Linked DNA regions of Homo sapiens: all the other regions are linked to region 1. Evidence: fine-mapped expression QTL. A gene starts in region 1. Each other region holds a variant in brackets. All regions are shown on one strand. Distances are from middle to middle.

What was found. PIP is the estimated chance that this variant, and not a neighbour inherited with it, causes the effect.
Region 2: its variant is the best candidate, but not a certain one, in a credible set for the expression of TPD52 in tibial nerve (GTEx, PIP 0.69).
Region 3: its variant is the best candidate, but not a certain one, in a credible set for the expression of TPD52 in whole blood (INTERVAL, PIP 0.70).

The regions. Positions count from the first base shown.
Region 1 is chr8:80,168,405-80,173,632 of GRCh38, forward strand. TPD52 (tumor protein D52) reads right to left here and starts at 3,160. Exons shown (of 8, transcript NM_001025253.3): 1 at 3,021-3,160. The coding sequence starts at 3,039. TPD52-MRPS28 (TPD52-MRPS28 readthrough) reads right to left here and starts at 3,160. Exons shown (of 7, transcript NM_001387778.1): 1 at 3,021-3,160. The coding sequence starts at 3,039. RefSeq lists a silencer at 2,992-3,321.
Region 2 is chr8:80,135,108-80,140,335 of GRCh38, forward strand. All of the region lies in intron 1 of TPD52-MRPS28 (TPD52-MRPS28 readthrough), which reads right to left. All of the region lies in intron 1 of TPD52 (tumor protein D52), which reads right to left. Among named protein-coding and RNA genes, the nearest start is that of TPD52, 34 kb to the right of the region's middle. RefSeq lists an enhancer at 3,472-3,521. The variant G/A (reference allele first, on the strand shown) is at 2,095.
Region 3 is chr8:80,115,222-80,120,449 of GRCh38, forward strand. The region is part of intron 1 of TPD52-MRPS28 (TPD52-MRPS28 readthrough); the gene reads right to left. All of the region lies in intron 1 of TPD52 (tumor protein D52), which reads right to left. Among named protein-coding and RNA genes, the nearest start is that of TPD52, 54 kb to the right of the region's middle. The variant C/CTT (reference allele first, on the strand shown) is at 2,513.

The sequences.
Region 1 (5,228 bases):
CATTAGGGATTTTTTAAGGGACAAATATAAGAAAACTCCATGTACATTAAAAACTATTAAAAGTTCAACAAATCCTAAAATTTTCTGCTTTGGTTTTAAGTATGTTGCCAAAATCACAATTCAGGAGACAATCACAGAGTTTGATAAACCTTATTTCAGCCAACACAGTTTGCTAGTGAACACCAGGTTTAAAATCCCAGGTTGTGCCTTTTCCAGTTTAAGGCAGGAGTCTTGCTCCAGATTCACTTAAGACTGAGTCATCCACTCTACTAGTTCTAAGATCTTCCATGTAAAGTTATCCTCCAAGCCCAGCACTGCCTTATCAGCAACTCTCTGGCTAAGTTCTGCTTCTTGAGAATAGACAGGGAAAACAGAACAGGAGAAAGTGGGAAACAAGAGATGGATTTGGAGGGACACAGAGGTTACTATGGCTGGGGCCTGCTCTTGGACACTTTCCTCACTCATCTTAGGCAGTCAACACATATTTCTAAGCACCTACTGTGTGCACTGGTAACATAAAGATGAAAAGGCAGGTAGGCAGGTGGAAGCAAGAGTAAGGAATGGCCAGGTGGTTTTGTTTTGTGTTTGTTTGTTTTTTGAGATAGAGTCTCGCTCTGTCGCCCAGGCTGGAGTGCAGTGGTTTGATCTAAGCTCACTGCAACCTCTGCCTCCCAGTTTCTAGTGATTCTCCTGCCTCAGCCTCCTGAATAGCTGGGACTACAGGCCGGTGCCACCGCGCCGAGCTAATTTTTGTATTTTTAGTAGAGACAGGGTTCCACCTTGTTGGACAGGGGTCAAACTCCTGGCCTCAAGTGATCTGCCTGCCTCAGCTTCCCAAAGTGCTGGGATTACAGGTGTGAGCCACCGCACCCAGCCTTGGCCACGTTGTTCTAACACAGCAAAGCTTTGGAGTAAATGAACTGACCCTCCCAAGGCAGTGCCTCTTCTTTCATTCGGAGCAGAGTCCTCCACCTCACCCAAAGAACATATGGGAAAATTATAGACACGAAAAGACTCATCTTACAAGATAAAGATTTGAAAAAAATATGTCTTAGAATTAGACACTTAAACTAGTCCTATAAAAACTACACAAGAAGTTGGAATACTGCAGTGCTACCAATGACTGTTGATTCTTACCACCCAAGCTAGAACACAAACACTACTAAAACTAGTTACTCCACTCACGTAAGTAAAACACAGCCGTTTAATTTACTTTGACAAGTACCAAACATAGTTATTCTAAAAACATCATTATGTCAAACGACAGTGTGTAACAGATTAGTATACAAATACACATGGGCACGTTTGTCGTCATGTCTCCCCCGTCCTGCGTCGCCCCCATTGAAAGCCAGACAGACATAATGCTGACTTACATGGTGGCCCCTAAGCCGGCTAACAATATATACAAGACATGTGACAAGCTTTCTAACTCAAACATTTGCATGTCTACTATGTACAAGTCATCATGTTATCCCACTCAGGACAACCAAAGATGAAATGTTTCTAACCTCAAGAAGCTTAAAATTTAGATAATAATATGTATGTGTATATATACGTTATACAGGTAATGTATAATATATATATACACATAGGTAACACATATAAAGCATATTGTATGTAATGTTTGTAAGCACTTGTGTTAAGTCTGAAATTAATCTGAAGGGGAGCGAGGAAAGAGCTGAAAGACTCCAAAGAGTCTATCTTACAAGTAAATGAAAGTAAAGTACAGGCCTGGCCCAGTGGCTCACACCTGTAATCCCAGCACTTTGGGAGGCTGAGGCGGGTGGATCACCTGAGGTCAGGACTTGGAGACCAGCCTGGTCAACATGGAGAAACCTCTGTCTCTACTAAAAATACAAAATTAGCCGGGCTGTGGTGGCGCACACCTGTAATCCCAGCTACTTGGGAGGCTGAGGCAGGAGAATCACTTGAACCAGGGAGGCAGAGGTTGCAGTGAGCTGAGATCCCGCCACTGCACTCCAGCCTGGGCTACAGGTGGAGACTCAAAAAAACAAACAAAAAAAACACCAGAGTCTGAAAAAAATAAAGTACAAGATAGTATATTTGGAATATGGTTTGATTTACATAAAAATGCACACATGACGGCACATACTGGAGGAAAATAAGCAATACATGAAAACTTGTGTCAGGGCTCAAAACAGGAGTGATTCCTATCCTCACTTCCCAAGATTACCTACCTTGTTTTCTTTTTTCAGCATTTATGTATCTTTTTAAAAGCGTGCCACACACATCTGCGTACAGTCACAGGCTTATGATCAGCAGAGATCTCTAGGATGAAACTATTTAAATCTGAAAACCATGGCCTACTATTGCTCTATTTGGGGGTAATTTCACTTGAGCTGTTTTCAGAAGCAAGTGCACCCAACGCTATGGTAAATTAGACTGAAGGTTTTGTGTTGTGGGATTTCACCCTTCCTACGAAAAGCTCTCTTCCCTCAAACCCACAGACACCACTCCACAATCTGGGGGTTTCTAGTATGATAAATATCTGCCTCCCAAACCCCCCATGGGTCATACGCCACCAAAAATCCTAACCACCTGAACTTAGAAGAAGGCAGAAAGTCTTAATTTATGAGGGAGAGAGGGGTTTCCCACCTGGAGGGACGAGAGCGACTCACTGTCCTCTGTTCCTGGTTCCAGTCACTTACAGGAGCTGGCTGCGCCGTGCTCCCTTCACGCGGCTTTCCACCCAAAGCGCATCACGGCCGCCAGCCCCTGACGCTAGCCCCTTCGCCACCTCCCAGAACCTTCTCTCCCTCTCCCCCACACACGCACACTCACACTCACACATGCAGTCCCATCTGCCCCCGCCAGAGCCGCTCCTTCCAGGGCCCCAGGATGCCAGATCCGGATCCGGGAGATGCAACTTGCGGCGCCGGCCCAGGAGGCTCGGCACCTGCTCGAGCCGCCGGGCCGCGCTCAGCCCCGCGCCGAGCCAAAGCCCGAGTCCAAGCCCGAGTCCAAGCCCGAGCCCAAGCCCGCTGGGTCCGCGCCCTCACCTTGCTCGCCGCGGTCCATGTCTCCAGCCCGCCGCCTCGTGTCCTCTGCAGCACCCCCGCCTGCAGCCCGTCCCGGCTCGGATCGCCCGCCGCGCCGCGCAGAGCTCCTCCTCGCCTCCGCCGGCGACTCCCGCGAAGTCCCCACCCCCAGAGGCGTCGGGCGCGGCGGCGCCGCCCGCCCTCGGCCTGGAGCGCTTTCCTGGGGCGTCACCCAACCACCTGACCCGGTCGACCTGTGCGCTCCGCCACGTCGGCGCGGGCGGCGCAGCGCTAGGAGGGCCGGGCGCACCCCGACTCCCGCACCGGCTGGAAGTCGGCCGGGAGGAGGGAAGAGGACGGCGAGGAGATGGACTCGGCCATGGAGGCTGCGTGGAGCCTGCTTGGGAACCGGGATGGCGTTTGCCTTCCACCATCAAGTTATTTATAAAATCAAAAGTTTCCTCCGAGGCCTTGGAGATGCCCTTTCTCTGCATCTGCGAACACCTACTTTCCTATACTTACAGTAGGAAACACAGGAACGTTATTTAGAAATGCCAGTGGCTCTTTTCTCTCTGTATTTTATTACCTAAATAATGCCCTATGATGTCTTCTCTAACTAGGTCATAAACCAGCATAGGTGAAAATTGCAAAGAATCTCTTGAAAAATTATATAGTCTTTTCCATAGAATGCGGATTTTTTAGGTGACTAGGAAGATTTTCATATAATAAAAATCTGTTTTGAGTGCGGGACTGAGGACAACACTAAAATGAATTAAATCAAATGAAATTAATTAAATTAACCGAAGGTCAGAATTATCAGCAGAGATCTTTGGAAAATGCGTGTTGAGGCGTCATGTCCGTTGATCAAAGGACAGTTTGAGGTTCCCGTAACAATCCAGTTCTTTTCATTAGTAGCGTTAACAATCTGTTTTCACAGGGTTTTGCAGTTACTCGTCTTCCATGAAGTCACTTTGATTGTATGGGTCATGGTCTTCAGGTGGTGTCTCAATTTCGTAAGCTATCTGAGGCTGCAAATGAAGTGGGGCTTCTTTTCTGTGTTGCTTGACGTTTAGGCCGAAGCATTGTGTAGCACTCCACAGACAACAAAGAAGCACTTATTCAGATGTTTTAAAATTACTTGTAGTTACCTGAAGTGACTGTATGCTATTAATATCTCTATACTGTCGTGCTGTATGTAAAGTGTAGCTCTCTCCAGCCTGCATCTTCCAGTGTCTTCTGGGGACGTTTACTGTTTGACTCAACCAGATGTGATCTCTTCTATTTGAGTCCTTCTACTCTGACTGCACTTGGCTCCTCTCCTGTGGCACTCACCCCAGCACTGGTGCCAGGATGCTACCAGTGTATGTTTCACAGTCCTATTAGGTTACAAGCTCCAGGTGGTAAAGTCCTTAAAATGGCCTATTAAAAAAATCAAAAAACAGGCCTGGCACGGTGGCTCACGCCTGTAATCCCAGCACTCCGGGAGGCCAAGGCGGGTGGATCACTTGAGGTCAGGAGTTTGAGACCAGCCTGGCCAACATGGTGAAACCTTGTGTCTACTAAAAATACAAAAATTGTCGGGCGCGGTGGCTCACGCCTGTAATCCCAGCACTTTGGGAGGCCGAGGCGGGCGGATCACGAGGTCAGGAGATCGAGACCATCCTGGCTAACACGGTGAAACCCCATCTCTACTAAAAATACCAAAAATTAGCCAGGTGTGGTGGCGGGCGCCTGTAGTCCCAGCTACTCGGCAGGCTGAGGCAGGAGAATGGCATGAACCCGGGAGGCAGAGGTTGCAGTGAACTGAGATCACGCCACTGCACTCCAGCATGGGCAACAGAGTGAGACTCCATCTCAAAAAAAAAAAAAAAAGTTCCAGGTGGGCAAAGATTATTTTGGTCATCTCTGCATCCTTTAATTCTACCATGCAATTAATAAATATTGTAATTTTAAACCAGGCATGGTGGTGTTTGCCTGTAAACCCAGCTACTCAGGAGGCTAAGGCAAGAGGATTGCTTGAGCCCAAAAAGGTGCAATATTTTTTAAAAAATTTTTAATGTAACATAAAGGTAAATTTTGGCATCAGCAGAAAATTCTGTATGTGGTAAAGAATTTTTGACTAGCTGATGCTGAGATCTATTGTATAGAAATAAACATCTGGAGAGACAATCTCTCAATGTACTAATTTGTGGACAAATAAATAGCACTTGAACGTGAGTGTCCGTTACA
Region 2 (5,228 bases), 33 kb before region 1:
ACTTGCATAGATATCCCTTCAGGTTACTTCCAACCACAAGACCCAGTGAATTTAATTGTAAACGTCTCCCTAGTCTAGATGTACACACGGTTGTTGCCAGAATTGAATAGCTAACAAGCTGACTAAAATCTATCCAAAGCCTCCTTATTTAGAACATTTGAAATAATTTATTATTTTTGATAGAGAAAAGTGGTCACACAGGGAGTTTCATTTTCACCTCCCACTTCCCAAGACAACTGGCTCACTTCCCCAGCCAACCTCAACAAAGTTTTATCTCGGTGAACTACCTGAGTCTTCTCACCCTACCTGCCCCAGCCTACCTGCCCCCCAGGAGAGTTAGAGCTCTGACAAAGAGGAAGCCTGAATATACCCTTACTCTTAAGGCACTGGTTTTCCAACATTTCTGATAATTACTACTTAACAAGCACACTGTAAACTAGTTCAACCATTGTGGAAATCAGTGTGGCGATTCCTCAGGGATCTAGAACTGGAAATACCATTTGACCCAGCCATCCCATTACTGGGTATATACCCAAAGGACTATAAATCATGCTGCTATAAAGACACATGCACACGTATGTTTATTGCGGCATTATTCACAATAGTAAAGACTTGGAACCAACCCAAATGTCCAACAATGATAGACTGGATTAAGAAAATGTGGCACATATACACCATGGAATACTATGCAGCCATAAAAAATGATGAGTTCATGTCCTTTGTAGGGACATGGATGAAATTGGAAATCATCATTCTCAGTAAACTATCACAAGAACAAAAAACCAAACACCGCATATTCTCACTCATAGGTGGGAAGTGAACAATGAGATCACATGGACACAGGAAGGGGAATATCACACTCTGGGGACTGTTGTGGGGTGGGGGGAGGGGGGAGGGATAGCATTGGGAGATATACCTAATGCTAGATGACGAGTTAGTGGGTGCAGCGCACCAGCATGGCACATGTATACATATGTAACTAACCTGCACAATGTGCACATGTACCCTAAAACTTAAAGTATAATAAAAAATAAATTAATTAATTAAAAAAAAAAATTTCAGTCTTTGAGGTTAAAAAAAAAACAAGCACACTCACACACACATTTAAACAAAAGTTGACATTTAAGAAAACAATGGCCGGGCGCGGTGGCTCACGCCTGTAATCCCAGCACTTTGGGAAGCCGAGACGGGTGGATCATAAGGTCAGGAAATCGAGACCATCCTGGCTAACACGGTGAAACCCCATCTCTACTAAAAATACAAAAAATTAGCCGGGCGTGGTGGTGGGCACCTGTAGTCCCAGCTACTCAGGAGGCTGAGGCAGGAGAATGGCAGGAACCCGGGAAGCAGAGCTTGCAGTGAGCTGAGATCACGCCACTGCACTCCAGCCTGGGCGACAGAGCGAGACTCTGTCTCAAAAAAAAAAAAAAAAAAAAAAAAAAAAGAAAACAGTGCTCACCATTAGAACATGAAGGACATTTTGGTCTCATACTGTTCTACTACTTTGTTCTTCTTAAAAAAACACTTGGTCAAAATCCACAACCCAGTAAAAGGTCCCAAGAAACAGTATGGAGAATATATCCGAAGACATACTTCTGAACACTCAACAGCTCCTAAAATCCTCCTAGGTAGAGACAAAGGCAAAAAACTGAAATAATAAATCCCCCTTCACCCCAATCATGTGTAAATACTTAGTTCCACTTCACCCACATCCATAAAATACACAATAAATGCTGGGGCTTTCATCTAATCAAGAACAACCTCAGGCAGTTTCTATTCAAATATAAATAATTATCCAGGCCCCAAAATTCTTCTCCTAGTTCCACAGGTAATGACTGGAAAATCTACAAACAACTTCAGCTAAAACTCCCTTATCACTCTTAACAAGTATGGCTCAAAGACAAAATTTCAATCTTTTCCAATTTTTTTTAAAGTAGGCAGGCAGCAAAATAAAACATCAGCAAAAGCTAAATGTGCTTGGATAAAGCACAATTAAATACATGTTTGTATTTTTCCAAAATGGACCACAGGTTGCTATTAAAAAGAGTAATAAAATCAATCTATAGAAACTAAATAGATAAGTGTTTGCCTGCG[G/A]GCACGGGATGTGGAGTGGCTGTAAATAGACACAGGGTGATGAAAATATTCTAAAATTAGATTGTGGTGATCACTGCACAACTCTGTAAGTTTACTAGAAATCACTGAATTGTACATTTAAAACAAGTGAATTTTAAGGTAAACTATATGGTGATTATTTATGGCAAATTATATATCAATAAAGCTTTTTTCTTAAAAAATGGAAACTATATGTTAGATTTTTTTTTTAATATCCAAGATACGTGTCAGTTAAAACAAGCAAAGTACAGAATAATGTGTATGACATGTTCCCATTTGAACTTTTAAAGTGATTGTATACATTACCTGCCTAGACATTTCTGGAAGGACACCCAGAGGCTGATCATAACAGCCGCTCTGGGAGAAATGGGTCTAGGCTAAGAGAGTTTGAGTTTTAATTGCATACTGTTTGGATTCATTTGCTTTGAACATGTATTATTTTTCATAAGTATGAAAATAAGATGGGTGGAAGCCCTCAGGAGTAGGACTCTTACAGCAGTACCAAGTTTATAACGGTGCTAGTTCATATTGTTCTTTGAGAAGGGGATAGTTTGGTCCTTCAGAATTTAAATATTTCAGCAAGGTAGGGTGGCCTGTAATTCCAGCACTTTGGGAGGCCAAGGCGGGAGGATCACTTGAGCCCACGAGTTCAATGCTGCAGTGAGTCATGATTGTGCTACTGCACTCCAGCCTGAGCGACAGAATGAGACCCCGTCTCTTTTCTTTTTTTTTTCTTTTTTTTGAGACAGAGTTTCACTCTTGTTGCCCAGGCTGGAGTGCAATGGCACGATCTTGGCTCACTGCAACCTCGCCTCCCAGGTTCAAGCAATTCTCCTGCCTCAGCCTCCCAAGTTGCTGGGATTACAGACATGCGCCACCACGCCCGGCTAATTTTGTATTTTTTGTAGAGATGGGGTTTCTCCATGTTGGTCAGGCTGGTGGTGAACTCCCGACCTCAGGTGATCCGCTCGCCTCAGCCTCCCAAAGTGCTGAGATAACAGGCATGAGCCACCGCGCCTGACCATGAGACCCTGTCTCTAATTATTTCTCAGTAGAAGTCTGCGTTAAAAGGTACCTGTGTTTGACAATAAGAGGCCAAGTGACAGAATCTTCCAACTGAAATCTGATTTCATAAAATCCAAGAGGAAGAGAATTTGAATGCCCTCTTAGGAGGAAAATGGGGTTCATATCATTTAGTCGTCTCCTTCGGCAGGTGCTGGAACACAACTCAAAGTGGCTTATGGTTTGCAATTATAAATCTGGGAAGAGATTAGATACATTATATCTGAGTACAGGACTATATGCATCTAGGGAGTTGAAAACATAGTCCTCATAGAGCTTTATCAAAAAGAAAAAGAATATGCAAATAAAAAACTAAAACTGAATCCAAAAAGGTAGCTGAACACCACACTCTCAAATGTTGTAACCAGACTTTTGACAACTGCTCAGATCCAGGCCTGGGTTCTACCATCTTGCCTCAGCTCATTTTTGGCTTTGGTTCCTAATTGAGCTCTTCACCTCGCTATTTAAGGACACTGGCTCTCTGAACATTGAGAACCTGTGGCTCACCGCATCCTCCCCTCCCCACCTTAGGCTCATCCTGTCATCAGACGGCTTCCTGATTTACAAGGCCAAGGTAACCAAAATTTGGACCATAAAATATTAGTATTCTCAACTTTCAAACACGAGCCAACCAGATGACCTGTTTCCAGGATCATGGCAGCCCCTCCGACCCAGAGCCTCTCCTGCTAGTGGGGTCTTCTTCCTCCAGTGCCTCCACTGACAAAGGAGCCACCGTCTCAGCCACCCCATGAGTCTGCCTCCCGTGAGATTTCTACAACTGACACTGCAGCCCCCACTTCCACTCTCATCTATTTGTGCCACTTGGATTATTTCAACTATATTATTCAACACTCAGCCACCTGTATTTACTGAATGGCTGCTCTGCCTAAGACACTGGCAGGGAGGGGAGAAAATAAGGGTATTTTTACAGTAACAATTAGGACAGTGTTTTGTTTCTAATAGCAGCTTGAGAAATAATTCGCATACTATAAAATCCACTATTTTTTTATAAAGAGTATGGTTCACTGGTTTTTAGTATATTCACAGAGTTATGCAAACATCACCGCAATCTAATTTTCATACCCCAAAAAGAAACCCACATCCATCAGCAGCCTAGGCTAGTATTTTTATGAAAAAAAAAATTTTTTCAGAGTTTCAGACTTGCAAACTTTTAAAACATTTAAAATTATAAACTGTCCAGGTTATCCAAAGACTGTACAGTATATGGTCCAGATTAATACAGTTAATAATTACCCACTCTGGGGCATATGCAACTTCAAGGGCAGAGGTAAAGATTTGCCTTGGGGAAAAATTCAGCACAACCATGAAAATAACAAGTAGCAATAAACGGGGGGTGGGGGTGAGGGCGGGGAAGGGGTTGCATTTGGATAGCGCCTCCCAATGCACTTGAACACTATAGCTAACAATACTGCATTATACACTTAAAAATTTGTTAAGAGGTTAGATCTCATGTTAAGTGTATTATCAAAATCAAATAAAATACAACGGCGTTTTTCAATCCTCCTAACCATCTTGACAGGAATACAAGACATTTACAAATGGGGAGCCTGATGTTCGGGGGATGGATGCCTGACTCCCAGTCACCCAGCTAGGGGACCCCACCCGGCTCTTCTGATTATCTGGCAGAAGTGAGCAAAACAGCTCAATCCAGCAGGCTCCATGTTAGCAGTAAGCAACTCTAATTTCATATCTGACTGAAAAAAGAAAAGAAGCCTATTTATGCTCTCAACATAATAAAGCAGCCTTTGTTTTATGCTAAGGCCCTGGTGATTTTTTCAGCACCAGTCCAGCTGTGACACACAGACGCTGGTTCGATGCCTGCATAAATGCTTTCTCTTTGTTTAGTGGTGAGAACGTGAGACCTCACTAAGGCCCAAGTCCTGGGTTCTCCTGATGTCAACCCCACAAGTGAGTAGTGGAGCCTCACTGGCAAGGAGACCTACCTGTGCCTTTCCCAAATGCCTGGGAAGGTAGGTTAGAGTTAGAATCTTTTAATTAAAATGAGGTAAAATTCTAATTACTCCACAGTTGTC
Region 3 (5,228 bases), 53 kb before region 1:
AATCTGCAGACTGAAGACAGGCTTGGCAGAAAGTCTCCGCCCGTCTACAGTGGTCTACAATGAATAAAAAACAGTGACCTGACAAACCAATCTGATCTCTCCTCTGAACAGGAGTCTAAAATGGAGATACCAAGAGTCAGTACTTACCAATGGGCACAGAAGCCACAATGACCTACAGAGAGATGACGAAAAGCAGAGCAAGAGAGCAGAAGCTATAAGGCTTCAATAAACAAGAAAGATCAAGAGTCATACAAGCGGCGGAAAAGGCAGCAGAACCATAACAGTAGAATGTCACCTAGAGAGAAGGAAGGGAGGCAAGAGAGGAATGGAATGTCATCTCTGAACAGCCAACTACTAGATTTTCAATCAAGCTCCCTGCAGAGGGCAGACCTTACAGACTAACTCCTGGAAGACTGCTGTATCCCCAAAACATAAACTTAACTGTGTGGCTAGTCCTACTTTTCTTATTCTCTATGAATTCAATAAAATCCATCACTTGTTTCTTGAAGCCTAACAGAGCCTATTTATATGGCAGTAATACCGTGTGATACATGGCAGTGATACCAGTCCAGAAGCCAGAACGGAAATGGAGGATAAATCTGACCACACAAAACTTTAAAACTTCCGTATGGCAAAAAATGTTCAACAAGGTCAAAAGAAACTATAAACAAGGAAAAAATATTTGGAAGACATATGACAAAGGCTAATTTCTTCTTAATATAACAAAAACTTGTTAAAATAAATAACCCAATAAAAGACAAAGAAGTAAAGGATATCATAGTATAGAAAAATAAATGTAAATAGTGCAAACTCTATAAAGGATAATTTGTCAATATCTACTAATATTGAACATTATATCCCTTTGACCTAACAAATCAACTGCTAAGAATTTACCCTCAGAAACACACTATCACCAAAAGTACCCTACAATATATCAAAAGATATTAACTGTGGCATTATTCATAACATTAATGACCATAAATAGGTTAGTTATGGAACACTATGTGGTCACTAAAAGATGAATTCAATTTTTACAAAAAGATCTCTAAAATATAAAGCATTAAAAAGCAAGGTAGAACTAAAATCCTGAATTAAAACAGCAATCATTATTGCCAACCATACAGAATAAAAAGGATTATAAAGTAATACTATGACCAACTGTGTGCCAACAGATTGGTTAGCTTAGATGAAATGACAAATTCCTAGAAAGACACAAAATCCTGAAATTGACTCAAGAATAAACAGAAAATCTGAAAAGACCTCTAACAAGCAAAGATATTCAAAAACCACCCACATGCAAAGGCCTACTCCCAGATGGCTTCACTGGTGAATTCTACCAAATATTTAAAGAAGAATGAATACCAATTATTCACAAATACTTTCAGCATAAAATAGAAGAGGAGGAAATGCTATGCAGCTCAGTCTATGAGGCCAGTATTACCCTGCTACCAAAATCGGACAAAGATATCACAAGAAAACGACAGACTAGTATTTCTAATAAATACAGACACGAAAGTCCTCAGCATAATACTAGCAAACCATTATCTAGGAATGTTAAAAAAAAAAAAAAAGTTTATTTAGTATGAGCAAGTAGAATTTATCCCAGGAATGTAAGTTTGTTTTAACATCCAAAAATCAATCAATGTAATCATATCAATAGATAAAGGACTAAAACATATGATCATCAAAATAGATGCAAGAGACATAGAAAAAGCATTTGACAAGATTCATCACCCTTTATGATCAAAACACTCAACAAACTAGGAATGTAAAGGAACTTCCTCAGTTTGATAAAGGGTGTCTATGGAAAACCGCAGCTAACATCTTAGTTAACAAAGACCGAATGTTTTTCCCCTAAGACCAGGAACAGAAAGGGTATTTGTTCTTATCACTTCTATTTAACATTGAACTGGAGGTTCTAGCCAGGACACTTAGGCAAGAAAAAGGACTAAAAGGCATCCGTTTTGGAAATGAAAAAGTAAAACAATTTCCATTTGCAGTAACATAATCTCATGTATAGAATAATAAGGAATCCATTAAAAAACTATTAGAACTCATAAATGAGTTCAGCAACTTTGCAGGCTTATAAGATCAATTCACAAAACTTATCACGTATCTATACAATTTCAATGAATAACCTAAAATTGAAATTAAGACAAAATTGTATTTACAACAGCATTGAAAAGAATACATTTAATAAGAGAATTTATACTTTGAAAACTACAAAATATGGCTGAAAGAAATTAAATACATTTAAATAAATGGCAAGTCTAAAAAAATGGGAAGACATCCATATTCATGGGTCTGAAGACTTAATATTGTGGAGATGACAATACCTCTCAATCAATTTACAGATTCAGTGTAATGCCTATCAAAATCCCAGCTGACTTCTTGACAAAAATTGACAAGCTGATCCTAAAATTCTCACAGAAATTCAACGGACCCAGAGTAGCCAAAACAATCTTGAAAGAGAGAACAACTTAGAGGACTCATGCTTTCTTTTTTTTTCTTT[C/CTT]TTTTTTTTTTTTTTTTGAGACAGAGTCTTGCTCTATTGCCCAGGCTGGAGTGTAGTGGTGCAATCTTGGCTCACTGCAACCTCCACCTCCCAGGTTCAAGCGATTCTCCTGCCTCAGCCTCCCGAGTAGCTGGGACTACAGGCGCGTGCCACCACTCCTAGCTAATTTTTTGTATTTTTAGTAGAGATGGGGTTTCACCATGTTAGCCAGGATGGTCTCGATCTCCTGACCTCGTGATCCGCCCACCTCAGCCTCCCAAAGTGCCAGGATTACAGGTGTGAGCCACCGCACCCAACCCAGACTCAAGCCTTCTAATTTCAAACTTCACTACAACACTACAGTAATCAAGATAATGTGTTATAGATATAAGAATAGACATATAGGTCAATGGAATAGAATTCAGAGTTCGGAAATAGACATTCACAGTTAAGGTTAATTGATTTCTGACAAGGTGCCAAGACAGTCTGACATGGAAAAATAGTCTTTTCATTAAATGGTGCTGGGGAAAATGGATAGCCACATGCAAAAGAATAAAACTGGACCCCTACCTCAAACCATACACTTAGAATCAAAGACCTAAATGTAAGGGTTTAAACTATAAAACTCTTAGAGGAAAACACAGATATAACTCTACATTGGATCATGCAATGGTTTCTTAGACAGGACACCAAAAGCACAAAAAAAGATAGATAAATTGGACATCATCAACATTAAAATCTTTTATGCTTCAAGCACACCGTCAACGAAGTGAAAAGACAACCCACAGAATGTGAGGAAATACTGTAAAATCATCTATCTGATGATGGCATTGTATCTAGAAAATAAAAAGAACTCTTGCCATTCAATAATGAAAAGACAACCAAATTTTCAAGTGTGCAAAGAATCTGAATAAATCATTTCTCCAAAGAAGACATACACATGGTCAATTAGCACACACAGTGATGGCCAACATCATTAGACATCAGGGAGATGCAAATCAAAACCACCTCATGCTTCACACCCACTAGAATGGTTATAATCAAGAAGACAATAATAAGTGTTGGTGACGATCCAGAGAAACAACAATCTTCATACACTCCTAACAGGTATGTAACACAGTACAGTCACTTCAGAAAACCGTCTAGCATTTCCTCAAAAGGTTAAATATAGAAATTACTGTATTACCCCATAATTGCACTCCTAGGTAAATATCTAAGATAAATGAAAACAATATGTCTGTACAAAAAAACATGCACAAATATACACAAGTATTCAAAGTAGTTAAAAAGTAAAAACAACCCAAATGTCCATCAACTGATGACTGAATAAATAAAATATGGTACATGTATACAAGGGAATATTATTCAGCAATAAGGAAATTAAGTAATGACAGATGCTACTCCATGGATGAACCCTGAAAACATCATGTGACGTGAAAGAAGCCAGACACAAAAGACCACATATGTATAAACCCATTTATATGACATATCCAAAATAGGCAAATTTATAGACAGAAAGTAGATCAGTAATTGCCTAGGGCTGGGAGTAAGGAAGTGGGGAGAGGAATGAGGAGTGACTGCTAATGGGTAAGGAGTATCCTTTTGGGTTGATGTTCTAAAATTGTGGTAAATGTTGTACAAGTATCTGGATACACTAAAAACCAATGAATTATAGATTGAATGAGCTGTATGGTTATCAGAATTATATCTTAAAGATGTTATTTTTTTAAAAAGCAAAGCAAAGAATAATGTGTATACTATCCCATTGTAAACTTCTACCCGTGGCTTTGTGTATGTGCTAGTACATGGACAGTTTTCTGGGGGAAAAAAAGTCAAGAAATTTAACAGTAGTTTACTTTGGGAAGGGAAACTATAGTGAATGAGTTCAAGAAAAAGGGATTTCAATTTTTTACTTTATACCTTGCTGTTCATGTAAAATTTGTTTCACACCATGTGAAAGAAAATATAAGCTTCTTTAAAATTAAAAGAATATATGGCCTTTAAAACCACACAGTACTGGCATAAGAATAAACAAAACATTTGAAACAAGTCCAGAAATAGATCCACAAATATAAAGGAATTTAATGTATGAAAATACTTACATTTTATATGAGTGGAGAAAAGATAAATCTTTCCCTAATTCAAGCCAGAAATTCCAGATGAAATAAAAAGCTATAGCAGAAAACATTAGAAAATATACACAATTAAAATGTTAGAAAAACTACAGGACATTAATAATTTGGGTACTGATGGGATCTCTCTGGGATAAAAAACTCAAAAGTTACTAAGAGACTGACAAATTTGACTATATACTATTAAAACTCTGTTATGATAGAATAGCACAAGTTAAAAGACAAGTGACAGCCTGAGAGAAAATATTTATAACAGACAGAGGTTTACATACCTTGTACCATGTATATATATAAGGATTCAGTAGATGGTATCTAAGCACAACAAAATTGGAATTAAATGAATATTTCTAAAAAAAAATAATAGGCTGGACGCGGTGGCTCATGCCTGTAATCCTAACACTGTGGGAGGCCGAGGCAGGTGGATCACCTGAGGTCAGGAGTTCAGACCAGCCTAGCCAACACGGCAAAACCCTGTCTCTACTGAAACTGCAAAAATTAGCTGGCCATGGTGGTTCACGTCTGTAATCCCAGCTACTCAGGAGGGTGAGGCACGAGAATCACTTGAATCCAGGAGACAGAGGTTGCAGTGAGCTGCCACGGCACTC